2 separate regions of the Homo sapiens genome follow, and region 1 is linked to region 2. Evidence: fine-mapped expression QTL. A gene starts in region 2. The other region holds a variant in brackets. All regions are shown on one strand. Distances are between the middles of the regions.

Region 1 (4,411 bases), 250 kb before region 2:
ATCCTATATTACATTTGAAATGTAACTATTCATAGAAATTCAACACACACACACACACACACACACACACACACAGACACACACACGCACACAAACCTATTCCATTGAAAAGTCACAGAAAGCCCAGCACAGTGGCTCATGTCTGTAATCCCAGCACTTTGGGAGGCCAAGGCGGGTGGATCACTTGGGGTCAGGACCTCCAGATCAGCCTGGCCAATATGGCGAAACGCCGTCTCTACTAAAAATACAAAAATTAGCCGGGCGTAGTGGCGCCTGCCTGTAATCTTGGCTACTAGGGAGGCTGAGGCAGGAGAATCACTTGAACCCAGGAAGCGGAGGTTACAGTGAGCCGAGATCGTGCCACTGCATTCCAGTCTGGGTGATAGAATGAGACTCCGTCTCAAAAAAAGTCACAGAAGTAATGACAGTCTTGTAGCAGTGAGCATGCTAGCCCAGATCTTACTCCTAGGCTTCTTGGGACAATGGCTGACTTCGCACATAGGACAAGAAAGTACAAGGTGAGCTCAAAATAGTTTATTATGTTAGAAAGCAAAGCAAGGCTCAAAAACTAATGAAATATTGGTTGGATATGGTTTGATATTTGGGGACAGTTGGAGAAACTTGAACATAGACCAGATATTATCGTTAATTTGCTGCTACTATTATGCTTATGTAGGAGAATGGTTTATTTTAAAGGAATATATGTTGAAAATATTCATTCAGGGATGAAGTGTTGTGATACATGTGACTTACTTCCAAATGGTTCAGAAAAAATGTATATATACATATAAATACAAAGTAATATAGCAAAATATTTATAATGACTGAATGTGAAATGGAGGTATATATGTGATCATTGTATTAGTCTTTCAACTTTTCAGTTTGTTTGGCATTTCTATATTTAAGAGTTGAAAAAAATGTCAATGCATATCATATAGCACAAATAACAGGAAATCAAGCTTATGTTTCCCCTAAGGTCCATTTTAGTCCTTCGATTCTAGAATCACAGAAAAGGAGATTGAGAATAGTGGTTACGGATAATAAAAGAAAAATGGAGGGATTAAAAAACAGCTTTCTATAAGCCAATATCATAACAGCTTGCTCATTAGATCAGTGTGATTACTTCTTTATTAGGCCTTATTTGAGCTGTCATCTGGTATCAATTAGGTCAGTTATAGTCTGTCAGGTCTACTGGAGGGAAATGGAGCAAGGTCCATCATGGTGAGGATGGCATAATTAAAGCAATGGAAATAATGACTACTCTTCATTTAACCCTCATCCAATCGACCAAGCTCATATTGGCCTTCCACTCATATTGAATGCTAAAGATGTGGAAGGAGAGAAAAAACACTTCCAAAACAGTTTTTAAAATCTTGTTTCAATTTAAAGTCAAATCAAATCAGATTATAAAGAAAATATTGTAGGGACTTAAAAAAGTAAAAGGGCATAACCCATTTATAAATATGTTTCTTAATGATTTAATTCTATATTTACATGTGTATATATGTTATATATCATGTATTATATATGTATATACTGTGAATATTTTTCAACAAAAAAGGTGTAATAAAAGTGAACATCTCTGAATATTTTGCTAAAGTGCAAAAATTTTGCATGGTAGTACAGAATTAAAAGAAGACCATTGATATGAATTGAATTCAGCATATACATCTCTTGATCCTTAAAGAATCTAAGCAAAATCCTGAGACCAAGATTGTAGCTATGTTGAAAATCTTTCCAAAGTAATTTGAAATCAGGTTGATTTTATTCAATTACACCTCAATTGTAAAGGTAACAGAAGAAGCAAAGAAGACATAGAAATCCATTTCAATCTAGACATTAAAATATTAAAAAATAGC[G/A]GAATTGAGGTTGGGATAATTACTCCAAAAAATTGAACTATGGTGAAATTTCACTTTTATACTCCTGATAGGTAATAAAGTATTTGGACTAATAGTTATCATATATGACAGATGTGAGTTATCAATTTTAATAACTCTTGGTTTTATTAGGTTTTAAATTAGACCTAAATGTACTTCAAAATTCACAAACCTTTAATGACTCAGAAAGCTTTTTAGTATTTTATGGAGTTGTATATGTAAAAATACAGCTAAATATATAGTCACCATAGACTATGTTGTCTAAATTGTTTTTCCAACCAAAAAAAAAAAACTAACTTATTTGTCACTTCCTTCTTTCCTAAATAAAGTACAAAAATGGGGAATATGAAGGTGGGGAGCACATTACATACATGTTTAAGTTATATTGTTAATTTTGATTACAAATTAATGGATGTCTAGCTGAGTGAGGACACATGATACTGATCTGTATTCTCTTACCCCACTGCTGCCATGAAAGTAACTGTTTGACCTATCTTTGACAACTCAATCTTTCTGGGCCTCAGTTATGTCATTTATGAAATGAGGAGAGTATATATTACCAGATAATCCCTAGGTTACTATTCAGTTTTAAATTCTGCACCCTTCATGACTTAGTTACCTCCCTCTAAAGTCATTTACCTTAATGGGAAGGAATTAGGCAAGCACCAAAAAAGGAAAAGTAATATCAGACACTTCTACACATGTATTATTTCTTCCTTCCTTCTCTCTTCCTTCCCTCCCTTTGTTTCTTCCTCTTCTCTCTTTTAAGATTTAGGGATTATTTCTTGTTTAACTGATAAAATTACCTACAATGTAAGATATTATGGTAATTATAATATCCTGTCAAATGTTCTACATTGTCACAAAATTTGCAGGTCTTACTTCCCATATGAATTTTCTAAATCTTTTATCATCAACTGATATCAGCTAATGGCACAGTTACACCACAGCATCTTAATTAGTTTAGCTCAAGTGTAATTTTGGTATGATAAAGCTATTCACTATAATAATTCATGTGCTTATATTTTTCCTTTGATCTTCCCAAAATTCTGATAAAACATTGCTTGACTCTTTACAATTTAAGAAGCTATTAGTGTTAGACACAAGATTAAAGATTGCATCTACCTCTGTTTTAAACCTTGATTTTTTGTTCATACAATCCTTTTTCTATTTACTCTGCCAAATAATAGTAGTAGAAGGAAGTTTTAACCCCAAGCTTTTGGGGGAAAATGAGATAGTCACCAATATTACCACCTAAAATCATGGCAAAGGTATCTGCTATCCCAGTCTCTGGCAGCTCTTTCACAGCTTTTCATCTAGAGTTTGATAGGTAGTAGCTTTCCATTGCCTTCCAAATGAGCCTAGGAGGCCAGTTCACCAGGACTCCCTGCAGTTCTAACAGAACACAGACAAGTTGATCTGCATCCCAAAGCCTGCCACTGGGGCTATATGAAAATGCTGCCTCACTAATAGAAGCACAATATGCAAGATGCCAGTGCATCTCTGTGATTTACAATATGTCTAATGAGCAAACCCAATGAAGAGGTTTGTTGTCTACCATAAAACCACATGGATGTAAGCAGTGATTAGAAGCAATTAACTCTGTTCAGCACTAAATAACTTTCTGTCATTAATGTACATTTTTCCACCTCATTAGAGGTACGGAGGAGAGCATGAGGTAAGGTGCACTCAATTTGAATTTCAGATATGCATATGTTTGGTGGAAAAATTCCATAAATTTGTGAGGAAAACAGAATACATGTTAATAGAGGCCTTGTATTGAAGCCATTTTTATTCCATCAATACTGGCTTGGGCATATACTCAATTTTACCAGCCATCCACCACTCCTTAGGTGAATAGGAAGCTCATGAAGTCAAGTTCTGGTAAGAAACACAAGAGGTGGTCAACAAACTAGTGACAGTGAACATAGATTTTCTTTTTATTTGCTGTCAATATAATAGACTATTCTTTTAAATGATTAGTGATGTCATTTCAAAGAATAAATCTAGAAAATATAATATTATTTAAGATACTTTTTGGGAAATTCAGCCTAAGACATCCAAAAATGTCACTCAGCCCTCCTCTACAAATATCAAGTGTATATAATACCATTTCAGTCATTTGATGAATTTATTAAAGAAGAGAGTTTTGCTAATTGATAGTCTTAATTAAAAAATAAACTTTGACTCTACCCACCAAAAAGAAATCTTTCAAAATGTATTGACTTTTAAAAATAATGTAAGAGATGTTCTGGGTCACAGGCTTATAGTATAATATTAAATGAGTAAAGGAGATATACTATGATCTCAAACATACAAAAGCAAGCTCAGGAAAAATGTGCAAATAAATAAACTATAATAATATTAACAGATATTCTAGAAAATGGGACTCTGGATGGTTTTATTTTCTTCATTATTACTCATAGTTCCCAACTTTTCTACAGTACACAATTTTTTGTTCACTTATCTCCTACCTTGCTCCCCAAAGGACTAGATACAGCTTAAAAAGTAAAATAATTGAGATAAAGAGTAAA
Region 2 (4,411 bases):
GGAACATGTGAGATAACGCATGTAAAATATTTGGGAAAGTGTCCAGTACATAGTAAGTTCTATACAGGTATTTGCTATTATTATTTATCAGCTGTGAGCATCACTCATTATGCTGTAAGGTGCACAAAGGCTGGAATTGTTTCTGTATTTCCCACTCCTCATATCTGCTTTCAAATAGTTTTTGGAGGAAGAAAGTTGTGAAATCCCAAAGTTTCCTCTGCCATCACTAAATCTCTTCATCTCATTCACAGCTCTGCCACATTCTCTACGGTCACCACCATTGGAGTTGCTGTCACCACAGCTACCACAGCCCCTTTACTGACACATCCAAATACCTTAAGTTCAAAAGGCTGTGGCATCAGATTCAGAAAGAAGAGTGCTAATTCTAAAAGATAGCCATTCGAGCAGCAGCAATGTAACAGATGTTTTGTTGATTTAGCAATTATTTCAAAGGTAACAAAAACTCTGGCTAACAATAGAGGAGGAAGGAGCTTACGCTCCAGAAGAAACACACCAACAACTACAAATTCACAGCCACTATCCACCAAGGGGGTACAAAATAATAGTAAGAATAACAATAACAAAAACAACAATGAAAGCACTAAGATGCTTTCAAGGGAGGCACCATAGCAGAGTCGTCATGAGCACAAGACCTGGATCCTGCCAATCTGGGTCTCAAGCCCATCTCTGTTACTTACTAGCTGTGAAACGCTGAGCTGTTTCTTAATTTTTACGTGATTTAGCTTCCTCTCTGAAAAATGAAGATAAAAATAGTATCAGCACCACTACAGTATTACTATAAGGACTAAAGAATTACCTTTTGTAGAGAACTTGGAACAGTGACTGGCACATAAAAAGTATTCAATTAATGTTGGTTATTTTTGTTAATTGAAAGAGTTTTCACAGACATATCTCAAAGGACCAGCACTGAGAGTTTTCCACACATATATTATGCAGACACACACACACCCAAGACCTTTTTCCCGACACCTCACATTAACACTACACTTTGATACAGTGTGTACTCTCTCAGGCCCTTTCCTTGGGCTCTTACACAAAGCCAAGAGTTCTGCCTGTTGCTCTTTTCCCTGATGTGACTATTACCTGTGTTAAGACAGGTATCTTAACATGCATAGATCTTAAATCAATCTATGCATGGCTACCATTATTTCACTGCAGAACACGGACTAATAGTCCCAGCTTTACTTCTCAATCGAGGCTTTCTGTAAGAAGAAGAGCTTCCTATCCAGGTTTTCTTATGAACACACAAAGACCAATCTTTTATCCATGGCCTAACCCAGTGTTTACCAAACTTGAATACATCTGAAGACTTGCAAAGCTCTATCAATTTCTGTCTGAGAGACATATTCCAACCCTTAAATTTATGAAAGACTCAACAAGCTGAAAAAGCAAGCAATACAATTTCAGAGAAGTAGTTTATCCAAGGATACATGGACAGTAAAAAGTAGAACTATGCCTTAAAACCCTTCTTTTGACTTTAGTACAATGTTTTCTTTTAAATTTTATTTATTCAAGAAGTTTGGAATTTAGAAATCATGGAGATGATTGGGCAAACCTAATACTAAAGGAAAAGTCAGATAATCCATAATATCATTGCTTTTTATCCCATTAAAAAAGCTGAGAATACTAATAAAGCTAACTTAACTAAAATCTGTATAGTTATGATCCCGTTCTATAAAAGAAGAGACCAGTGAATTTTTTCATCCCTGGTGGTGCAGCAGGAAACAGAATCTACCACAGAAAAGAAAATGAGGAACTACATGAATCTTAGACAACTATTAAGACCTGTGTGTGAACTAGCTTGACATGCTGGAGTCCCAAGGAACCCATCCACACCATCAAGCTGTACTCACCTGCCAGCACTTTACCACAGGTCTTCACCAGGCACAGAGGAGGACTATACTGAAGACTGAGGGAAAGTCAAGAAATCTGAGAGAGAGAGATCCTTGAGGCATGTGAACCTTCCCTAAGTGCAAGGCAGCATCCCAGTGAAGACTGGAGTCAGGGCAGAAGAGTTAAAAGAAATCTGTCTGAGAAAGTCTAGGCCTTCACTAGGTCAAAACAGTTGCAACGGAGGCCAGAAATAAGGCAGAAGAACTGAGAACAGTTGCTCAGAGTGTTGCAAACTTTCATTAAGTACAAGGCACTGGATGCCAAAGGCTTGAAGCAGCAGAGCAAAAAGAAGAGAGACCTCCTGAGATTAATAAAGTCAGAAACAGGAAAGGAAAAAGAACTCCCTAGCAACCAAAACAGTCTGGGAGCACACAGAGATCTCTGAAATCTTGCCAGTGCTCAGATCACAAGCCCTAGTGATAGAAAAGACCTTATTCTGTTTTCAAAACATTTGAAGTCAGTGGTAAACTAATCCAACTAAAGCTGAAATAATCCCACATACCTCAAATATACAACAGATTTCCTCAACTTTCCCAAGAAAAGGTCTAACAAAAAAAGTATGCACTTTTTTAGGGTAAATAAATATTAATTTTCTCAATCTCTACTATTTTTCTCACAATATCCAACATAGAGTAAAAAATTTTGAGACCCACAAAGAGAAAAAATGTGAGCAATAATCAAATGAGAAAACAGTCAACAGGCTGAGACTCTAGAAAGCACAGACGTTAGATTTATCAGGGAGTAACTTCAGCATAACTATGATAAATATGTCAAATAATTCAGTGGAAAAGGTAGAGAGCATGCATGAATATATAGAGAATTTCAGCAGAGTAATGAAAAGTATGAAAAGAAACCAAACTGCAATGTCAAAATTTGTTTTTAAAATACACTGTCATCAAAAGAGAATACATATTAGGAGTCTAACAGGCCATAAAACACAACAGTAGCCTATTAGCAGCAGCAAAAAGCAGAAGTAAACCTGAGGACAGGTCAATTATCCAAAAATAAATAAATAAATAAAAGGGGGAATGAGTGAAAAACTTGAGTCTATGATCTCTAGGACAATATTAAGTAGCCTAGTAAATATGTAATTGCATCTGTGAGAGATAGAAAATGAGTCAGAAGAAATCCTTGAAAACATAATGGCCAAGAATTTCTCAAAATTGATTAAAAATATCAAACCTCAGCATCAGGAATCATAGTAACCCCAAAAGAGGATAAACACAAAAACAGAACTAGGCACACCATACTCACTCTGTTGATAGCCAAAGATGATACAAAAATCTTAAAAGCAGTCAGAGAAAAAAGAAACATTACACGGAAGAAAAAAATGATAAAAATTATGTCTAATTTCTCTTCAGAAACAATTACTCCAAAACAATGGAATGACATCTTTAAAGAGCTGAAAGTGAAACATGTTAGTCTGGAATTCTGTATAGGATTCTAAATAGATTCTACATAAAATTGTAGCATAGTCCTATATCCTACAAAAATGAAAAATAAAGACATTTTCATACCCTTCTCCCCAAATCAGATTTTTTTTCCAGGAGACCTACACAAGAAATGCTAAAAGAAATTCTTCAGGGCCGGGCGCGGTGGCTCACGCCTGTAATCCCAGCACTTTGGGAGGCTGAGGCAGGCGGATCACAAGGTCAGGATTTCGAGACCATCCTGGCTAACATGGTGAAACCCCATCTCTACTAAAAATACAAAAAATTAGCCAGGCCTGGTGGCAGGCGCCTGTAGTCCCAGCTACTCGGGAGGCTGAGGCAGGAGAATGGCATGAACCCAGGAGGTGGAGTGTGCAGTGAGCCTAGATAATGCCACTGCACTCCAGCCTGGGTGACAGAACGAGACTCCGTCTCAAAAAAAAAAAAAAAAGAAAAAAGAAATTATTCAACATGTACATAATAGGCACATAAAATAGGCACAACAAACCATTTGGCAAAATCCAACATCCATTCCTCATAAAACGACTCAGTGAAAAAGAAACTGAAGAGAATTTTCTCAACCAAAAAAAAGCACCTATGAAAATGTATTATACTGAAAGATAAAAGACCAGAACAAGACAAGAATTTTTACTCTCAACACTTCTATTCAACTTTGTCCTGGAAGTTTCAGCTAGTACAATAAAAAAAGAAAAGAAAAATAAATAAGCACAGAAATCAGAAAAGAAGAAATAAAACTGTCTTTATTCACAGACAATATGATCATTTGTATAGAAATGTGATGGAATCGAGAATCAAAGCTACTTGTACTAATAAGTAAGCTTAGCAAGATTTCGGGATACAAGATTGGCATATAAAATCAACTGAATTTCTATATACTAGCAACAAGTTATTGGAAATTGAATGTTTTAAATGTCGCTAATGATAACATAAAAATATATAAAATAGGGATAATGTACATAAAAGATGTGGAAAACCTATAAACAGAAATCTTAAAACATTGTTGAGAAAAAATAAAGAAAAAACAAAATAAATAGATATATTAATTA

The links.
Region 1: its variant is fine-mapped to the expression of LINC01088 in blood mononuclear cells (TOPMed, PIP 0.91).

Annotation. Positions count from the first base shown.
Region 1 is chr4:79,216,102-79,220,512 of GRCh38, reverse strand. The region is part of intron 4 of LINC01088 (long intergenic non-protein coding RNA 1088); the gene reads right to left. It also overlaps a transcript of NAA11 not described here. Among named protein-coding and RNA genes, the nearest start is that of NAA11, 110 kb to the left of the region's middle. The variant G/A (reference allele first, on the strand shown) is at 1,860.
Region 2 is chr4:78,969,340-78,973,750 of GRCh38, reverse strand. It overlaps LINC01088 (long intergenic non-protein coding RNA 1088), which reads right to left and starts at 2,003. Exons shown (of 6, transcript NR_038342.1): 1 at 1,875-2,003; 2 at 699-751.